Regions from separate parts of the Homo sapiens genome. Here regions 1 and 3 are each linked to region 2. The links come from fine-mapping of genetic effects on gene expression. A gene starts in region 2. Each other region holds a variant in brackets. All regions are shown on one strand. Distances are between the middles of the regions.

Region 1 (2,754 bases), 55 kb after region 2:
GCCCCATATGCCCACACTCCCCAAGAGCAAGTTCAAATATCTTTCAGAACCTCCAACCCCACCTCCTCACGCTGACTCAGAGGCCAAAGGTCACTGAGGAAGCTCACACACCAAGGGGGAGGGGAGAGATAAGGTGTCCAATAAACTATCCTCTCCTGAACAAAACCTGGCTCCAGGTCAGTAATGAACTTGGCCCCAGGGCTCTATACCCCTCTTTCATCTAGTGTTCCCACCCTTGCACCTCTCTTCCATCCAGTCCTCCCAGCCCTCCCAGTTCAGATGGAAAGGACAGAATACTTGGACTTGGAGCCAGCTTTGGGTGGTGGATGAAAGACGCGGTGAGGAAGGGCACAAAATCACAGAGGCCTCCCCTCCAGACTGGGGAGGGGATGCAGAGGGGCAGGTTTTACCTTAGGATCTTACGGAGCTTACAAGAGAACAGGATCCTACCCTAAACTGTACGGGAAACACCCAGTTCTACTCTCCAACCCCCCTCCAAAAGTCTAATGGCAACCAGATGAACAAGTCCAGCATTGGGGAGACAGGGCCCCCAGGGGACACTGAATCTCCACAAGGCCACCCTCCCCTCCCCCCAATACCTCCCCCTTTCCTCGGCTTCCCCAGAACTCAGCCAACCCCACCCTCCATTGGAGAAACCTGCTTTGAAAAGTTAGCTCTTTGTTCTTCCACACGGTCTCCTGGCTCTGAGCACAATTTCAGGAGATCTCAGCTAAGCACCCTCCACCCACCCTACTCTGCCACCCAACCCCACCCGGCTCAGGCTGGACGGCCCAGCACCGGGAGTTGGCTTTTAATTGGAGGTGGGGGTTGGGAAGCTGTGGAGGAGGTCTGCGAGTCCTTTAACGACTGAATCCAAGGGGGTGCAGGTCGTTCAAAAACGGGGCTCTTGCGGCAGAGCCCGGGTCCTTACCCAAAACCCCCCGCATCAGATGCCACACACTCGCAGGCTGATAGCCCCCGCCCCGCCAGGCCAGGAAGCCAGGCCACCCCCGCCGGAGCGGACGGTTTTGCAGGGCCCCCCAGCCTCTGCCCCGCCCCCCCGCCCCCTCCACCAGCGCCCCGCGCTTCCGCCTACTTGGCGCTCGGCGCAGAGCGGAGAGGGAGCGGCCGTCTCTTCTCACTCTCCAGGCCGTAGGGGGCGGGACTGCACCCCTAACCTTCCCCCAACACACCCCGG[C/G]GCCTGACTTCCCTGCTCCTCTCCCGTCCTCCCAACCCCGGGACACAGAGCCCACCCCTCTCCAGCAGCGGCTGCCCGCTACGCGTGGACTTCCCGCCTCGCCCCAGATCTCCTGGTTTTCAGACTGGGATGTGTCCCCACACCCCATGACACCGCCCGCTCGCCCTCCCTCCATTCTCCTGGGATCGCGGGGATAAGGCGGCAAAGACCCGGCCCTTCTCTCCTCCCTGGATTCGGAGCACTGCGGGGGATTGCAAAGACGCGTCTCCCGGTCCCGGGCTCACCTTATCCAGACAGTTCACCTTCTCCGTGGGATACACGATCTTGCCGCACCGGGCGCAGTTGGGGTTCATGGTTCCGAGAAAAGCTGGGGCGGGGACGCCTGAGCTCACGCGCGTCCTGTTCCCCGAGGCGAGCTGGCGGGAGGCGGCCGCGGCTGCAACTACACAGGCAGCAGCGACGGCGGCTGGAGCTGGGGAACTGGCCTCCGCCTCCGCCCTCCTTCCCCTAATAAACACAGCGGGGAGGAGGGGCTGCACTGGGGCGGGCACGCGCCTCGGGCGCGGGCAAGGGCACGCGCAGCGAGGCGCGCTCTCCGGGCGACGTGGGGCTGCGCGGGGGCGGGTTCCTGGGGGGACGGCGGGGCCCGCGGTGCTGGCGCCTCAGCGCTCTCAGGCTGACTGCGCCCGGTGCCCAGGGCCCTTCCCCAGCCGGAGGCGGCGCAGAGGCGAGCAGGCTGCACATCTGGGGCGCCCGGGCTGCGGGAGGCGGGCTAACCCCTCAAGCCCGTCGAGGGTGGGGTTGGATCCTCCTGAACGCTGGAACTGATTCACCGCATTCGGGGACTTTCTACCCGGCATGAATCTGCGGACCGAACGGGGACCCCCTACCCTGCCCCTCTTAGCTCTCTTCCGGCCCACACCCTTTCCCACATTTGTGGGGCGGAACCCGTCCCTCCCTCTTGGACCCTGCGCGCTGCCGGGCCCGGGCTAGTGCTTCCCTCTCGAGCCCCTGCAGTGCACCTTCCCGGGGTTCCCCGGATGCGGGCACCGTCTGCGTTCAGCTTGACCCCTTTTTCTCCAGCATTCCTTTCTCCTTCTGTTACACCACTACTCACAGTGTAGCAGCTGCAACAATGCTTAGCACCCAAGGAGCCGCCTCCAGGCGCTGTAGAGGCGCGGGGGTATAGCTCAGTGGTAGAGCATTTGACTGCAGATCAAGAGGTCCCTGGTTCAAATCCGGGTGCCCCCTCAATGGCTTGGTTTTTCCTTCCCCTTGTTAACCATCTGTTTTTCATTCTTGACTCACATTTTAACATTGGGTCCTGACTAAAAAAAAAAAAAAAAAGAAAAGAAAAAGTATCTTCCTCATTTTTCAACCTTAGCAGAAATCTTTCGGTTTTACTTTGTGCTCAGCGGGAGGAGGGGGTGGGTATAAAAGCTGCGCGACCGCATTACTCGCGCCAGAGGTGTAGGGATTTCTGCGGCCACGGGCGCCAGCCTCAGATGGGTCAGACAGTTCGAGGTGCCGGGTTTGAGGGACAGGATGTTTCCAAT
Region 2 (2,754 bases):
CATAGATGAAGATGGACAACTTGAACTTCCCCTTGAGTTTCACAAGGGAGTCCTGTGTGTGAGAAGGAAGGAACATATTTGAGTGTAATGTGCAGTTGCATTTAGATCTAAGGAAACTTAAAATGAATTTAAGTTTCCTTAATTCAAAATGAATTTTTGAGCAGTTCTCCACGGTAACTTTAATAAGTCTCCATTTCAACTTTCTGTTCTCAATCCCATCTACAGCTCAAACATATGCAGTATCTGCCAGCCCTGTCCATGAATTCCTGAAGTCCCAGCCAAGTGCCTCTCAGCTCAAAAAGCCCCTTGCTTGCCAGGGGTCAGCCATGTCTGGAAGGCTCTGAAAGAGGTCTGCTGGGCAGTAGGACTGCTTCTGTGGATGAGAGGCCTCTTGTTGGACTGGAGAGACCAGGAGCTGTAAGAAACCCAGAAATAAAAAGTCTCAGATGGGGACAACTGCAAAGTACCAGGAGTTCCTCCCTCCTCTCCACCATATCCCACAGTTGGACATCTCCCCGAAAACCCCACCCCAAGTAAAATTTATTTGCCGTCTCACCCTCAAATAAGAATGAGTCAATCATTAAGTAATGCAATTATACAAGCATAGTTGTAAACAACTATATTGCAAGTATGCTGACATGCAAAGATGTGTTTTACCTTTAATTACCAGAAGAAAATAGACAACTTGAGTTTGAGCACCTAACTTGAAGAAGAAATTAGGAAATAATAGTCCCTCCCCACCACATCCATCATTCCCAACCCGTTCTGCCTAAAAATCGTTTACATTGTGGATTTTATTTGTAATTTTTAAAGTCTTATTTTAAATTAGGTCCCAAAGAAAGAAGCTGGCATTTCTTATTCTTTTCAGAGTGGTCTAAGAAAAAAAATAGGAAAGCAAACTCTTTCTTTTTTTCTTTTCTTTTTTTTTTGGAATCAATACCCGAGATAACAGCAGAAGCAAAAATCCACCGGTGCGTCAGCAAGCAGGGCACTCGGCCATTCATCTCCATCCTTCCTTCTGAGCTGTTCTCCAGCAGGCTCCGGCCGCAGCTCCAGGCCACTAGAGCAGATAGATAATGTAGGACAGAATGACCAGGCCTATGATGGCAAAGAACATCAGGATGAAAATATCCAGCATTGTGGATTCCTAGGCCGACCAAGCCCCTGGATTCTGGTGAACCGTGAGCTGTGAGCACGGAGGTTGCAGTCGGTGGAGAGAAATGGCTCCCCTTCACTCCACAGCTCAGCCCTGGTTCTTTCCCCTCCCCCTCCCAGGGGCCTGAGACTGAAGGATGCTGCAGCTCCACCAGCAGCTTCCTGCCCCCCCACCAACCACAGCCAACCAATCACAAAGCCTGGGGGTGGATAGCCAAGGAGATGCCAGATTTAGACCCACAGAACCGCAGAATCAAAGGGGCTCAATTTCTCCCCAGGAACCCAATCCCACCCCTTTGTATCTAAATGGAGCCTGCATGCTCTGGATGTAGGAGGAGATAGGATCCTACCCAGCTCCCCCAAGAGTGAATCCTCCTGACTGCCTTCTTCGCGTTTCCTCTCACACACCTCGGGCAGATTATCTCAGAAAAATCATGGTTGGGTATTGGGTGGGCCATTGGCAACTTCTAAAGGTCACATTATGGGGAGACACAGACAAAAGTTTCGTGTGGATCTCAGTGGGCTTCCCTGAGGGATGAAGCTAACATTTATACATTTCCTACACTGGGCCAGATATCGTACATGTGGTGCAATTTCAACCTCCCTATGAGTCTTTCATAGATGGGGCTCAGAGATGGTCAGAAACTTACCCTAATGGTTCATAGCTTAGATGTGTCAGAGACCAGCCGGGCGCAGTGGCTCATGCCTATAATCCCAGCACTTTGGGAGGCCGAGGCAGGTGGATCACAAGGTCAGGAGTTCAAGACCAGCCTGGCCAAGATGGTGAAACCCTGTCTCTACTAAAAATACAAAAGTTAGCCAGGCTTGGTGGTGCATGCCTGTAATCCCAGCTACTTGGGAGGCTGAGGCAGAGAATTGCTTGAACCCGGGAGGCAGAGCTGAGATCGCGCCACTGCACCCCAGCCTGGGCTACAGAGCAAGATTCTGTCTCAAAAAAAAAATAAAAATAAAAATTAGCCGGGCGTGGTGGCAGGTGCCTGTTATCCCAGCTATTCAAGAGGCTGAGGCTAAAGAATTGCTTGAACCCGGCAGGCAGAGGTCGCAGTGAGCTGAGACCGTGCCATTGCACTCCAGCCTGGGTGACAGAGCGAGACTCCGTCTCAAAAATAAATAAATTAATAAATAAAATAAAAAGTAAAAGGCTGGGTGTGGTGGCTCATGCCTGTAATCCCAACACTTTGGGAGGCTGAGGTAGGTGAATCACCTGAGGTCAGGAGTTCAAGACCAGCCTGACCAACATGGAGAAACTCCAGCTCTACTAAAAATACAAAATTAGCTGGGCATGGTGGCACATGCCTGTAATCCCAGCTACTCAGGAGGCTGAGGCAGGAGAATCGCTTGAACCTGGGAGGTGGAGGTTGCAGTGAGCTGAGATTGTGCCATTGCACTCCAGCCTGGGCAACAAGAGTGAAACTCCGTCTCAAAATAATTAATTAATTAATTAAAAATGTCAGAGACCAGGATTCAAAACTAGGCATGCTGACACCAAAGTCCATATTCTTCCTCTTGCGCCACACTGCTCCCCCTGTTGGTCCGGAAGGCCCCTACACCCCACGTGCACTGCTCAGCTTGCAGTGG
Region 3 (2,754 bases), 73 kb before region 2:
GTTTTTAAGACCTTAAGGAGCTCCAGGGACAGAAGACAGAACTCAAGGTCTGCCCAAGATGGAGATTCTAATTGCATATTCTCTCACACAGGTGAGACCCTAAAGCTATACCCTTACTATTAGGCTAAACTAGAAATACATCTGACCACAAGGGGCTATAGCCAAAATGGCCTTGGTTCTTGGTACTACATAAAAGTGAAAAAGGGCCAGGTGTGGTGGCTCACGCCTGTAACCCCAGCACTTTGGGAGGCTGAGGCGGGTGGATCACGAGGTTGGGAGATCGAGACCATCCTGGCTAACACAGTGAAACCCCATCTCTACTAAAAATACAAAAAATTAGCCAGGCGTGGTGGCAGGCGCCTGTAGTCCCAGCTACTCCGGAGGCTGAGGCAGGAGAATGGTGTGAACCCAGGAGGCGGAGCTTGCAGTGAGCCAAGATTGCGCCACTGCATTCCAGCCTGGGTGACAGAGCAAGACTCCATCTCAAAAAAAAAAAAAAAAGTGAAAAAGAACTCCTGAAAAAGATATAAAAGCTAGTCCTAACAATTTGCAGTTTAGTTTCACAGGGTCGAATCGTCTGAAAAGCCTCCAGCAGAGATTTTAATTTAAAGTGGTCCTAAGGGCCAGGTGTGGTGGCTCACGCCTATAATCTCAGCACTTTGGGAGGCCAAGGCAAGTGGATCACCTGGCAAGTGGATCACCTGAGGTCGGCAGTTTGCGACCAGCCTGGCCAACATGATGAAACCCCATCTCTACTAAAAATACAAAAATTAGCTGGGCTTGGTGGCAGGCACCTGTAATTCCAGCTACTCGGGAGGCTGAGGCAGGAGAATCACTTAAACCCAAAAAACGGAGGTTGCAGTGAACCAAGATGGCACCACTGTACTCCAGCCTGGGTAACAAGAGTGAAACTCCACCTCAAAAATAAATAAATAAATAAATAAAATAAAACAAAGTGGTCCTAAGTACCTAAAGTGCTAGAAGAAGCATATGCAATTCTCTCTAGAAGAACCCACCTTTATCTCAGGCCTCAAAAAATTCCCACATATAGTTTTGATAAAAATAACCACAGAATCAAAAATCACAAAACCGAAACAAACTAGGCACCATGAGCAAAAGAAGCAGAAATATAGACAGCAGAATCAGACCTACAAAGACTGTAGATATAGAAATTATCAGAAACATGACATAAAATTACTATTTTAGAGCTTTTAAGAAATAAAAATGAGGCCAGGCATGGTGGCTCACACCTGTAATCCCAACACTTTGGGAGGCCGAGGTGGACAGATCACGAAGTCAAGAGATGGAGACCATCCTGGCCAACATGGTGAAACCCTGTCTCTACTAAAAATACAAAAATTAGTTGGGCATGGTGGTGCATGCCTGTAGTTCCAGCTACTCGGGAGGCTGAGGCAGGAGAATCGCTTAATCCCGGGACTGCGGAGGTTGCAGTGAACCCAGATGGTGCCACCGCACTCCAGCCTGGGTGACAGAGCAAGACTCTGTCTCAAAAAAAAAAAAAGAAAAAGAAAAAGAAAGACAGACAAATGGAATTAATAATAAAAGAATATACAAATGACCAAGCAGTTTTTTT[T/A]AAAAAAAATACAATTCTGGAGATGAAAAATATAGTAATAAAAATTTTAAATTCATTGGACAGATTTAATAGCAGGTTAGACACAACTGAAAAGAGAAGGCAGTTCAGAGGAAGAAGGGGTGAAAAAAAGCAGAGAAAACAGAGTGAAAGAAATGATGCAGATGACAGCACAGTGAGAAAAATAAATGGAAAATGAGCCGGGCACTGTATCTGTAATCTCACTGCTGGGATTATGGGCTCACACCTGTAATCCCAGCACTTTGGGAGGCCAAGGCAGGAGGATTGCTTGAGGCCAGGAGTTTGAGACCAGCCTAGGCAACATAGTGAGACCTAGTGTCTGCAAAAACACAAAAATTAGCCAGGTGTCGTGGTGCATGCCTGTAGTCCCAGCTACTCAGGAGGCTGAGGCAGGAGGATTGCTTGAGGCCTGGAGGTGGAGGTTGCAGTGAGTTGTGATTGCACCACTGCACTACAGCCTAGGTAACAGAGCAAGGCCTTGTCAAAAAAAAAGAAAAAGAAAGGGGAGGGCAGGGGAAGGGAGGGGAGAAGGAAGGGAGAAAGAGAGAGAGGAAGGGAAAGAAAGAGAGAGAGGAAGGGAAAGAAAGAAAATAAATGGAAAATAAGATACCCAGATTCAAGAACCTCAGTAACTTCATAACAGAAATAAAAGGAAATCCACATTTCAACACATTATAATAAAATTGCAGAGCACTGAAGACAGAGACTAGATCTTAGAAACAGACAAAAGAGGCTGGGCGCAGTGGCTTATACCTGTAATCCCAACACTTTGGGAGGCCGAGGCGGGTAGATTGCTTGAGGTCAGGCGTTCAAGACCAGCCTAGACAACATGGCAAAACCCCATCTCTACTAAAAATACAAAAAATTAGCTGAGCGTGGTGGCAGGCGCCTGTAATCCCAGCTACTTGGGAGGCTGAAGCAGAATTGCTTGAACCCAGGAGGTGGAGGTTGCAGTGAGCTGAGATTCATGCCATTGCACTCCAGCCTGGGCAACAAGAGCGAAACTCCATCTCAAAAAAAAAAAAAAAAAGAAAAGAAAAGAAACAGACAAAAGAGTCAGAAAACTTCAGCCTGAAACAATTTGATTGACAGCTGATTTCTCAAGAGCAACAATAAAAGTAAGATGATGATGGAATAATACC

Evidence for each region.
Region 1: its variant is fine-mapped to the expression of LASP1NB in whole blood (TOPMed, PIP above 0.99).
Region 3: its variant is fine-mapped to the expression of LASP1NB in blood mononuclear cells (TOPMed, PIP above 0.99).

Annotation. Positions count from the first base shown.
Region 1 is chr17:38,868,987-38,871,740 of GRCh38, reverse strand. It overlaps LASP1 (LIM and SH3 protein 1), which reads right to left and starts at 1,683. Exons shown (of 7, transcript NM_006148.4): 1 at 1,483-1,683. The coding sequence starts at 1,551. It overlaps TRC-GCA4-1 (tRNA-Cys (anticodon GCA) 4-1), which reads left to right and starts at 2,378; the gene lies at 2,378-2,449. RefSeq lists enhancers at 1-421, 1,434-1,583 and silencers at 1,024-1,123, 1,644-1,953. The variant C/G (reference allele first, on the strand shown) is at 1,199.
Region 2 is chr17:38,924,078-38,926,831 of GRCh38, reverse strand. It overlaps LASP1NB (LASP1 neighbor), which reads right to left and starts at 1,218. Exons shown (of 2, transcript NM_001414697.1): 1 at 941-1,218; 2 at 1-415. The coding sequence starts at 1,138. The coding sequence ends at 1,061.
Region 3 is chr17:38,997,076-38,999,829 of GRCh38, reverse strand. No RefSeq gene overlaps it. Among named protein-coding and RNA genes, the nearest start is that of LINC02079, 29 kb to the left of the region's middle. The variant T/A (reference allele first, on the strand shown) is at 1,595.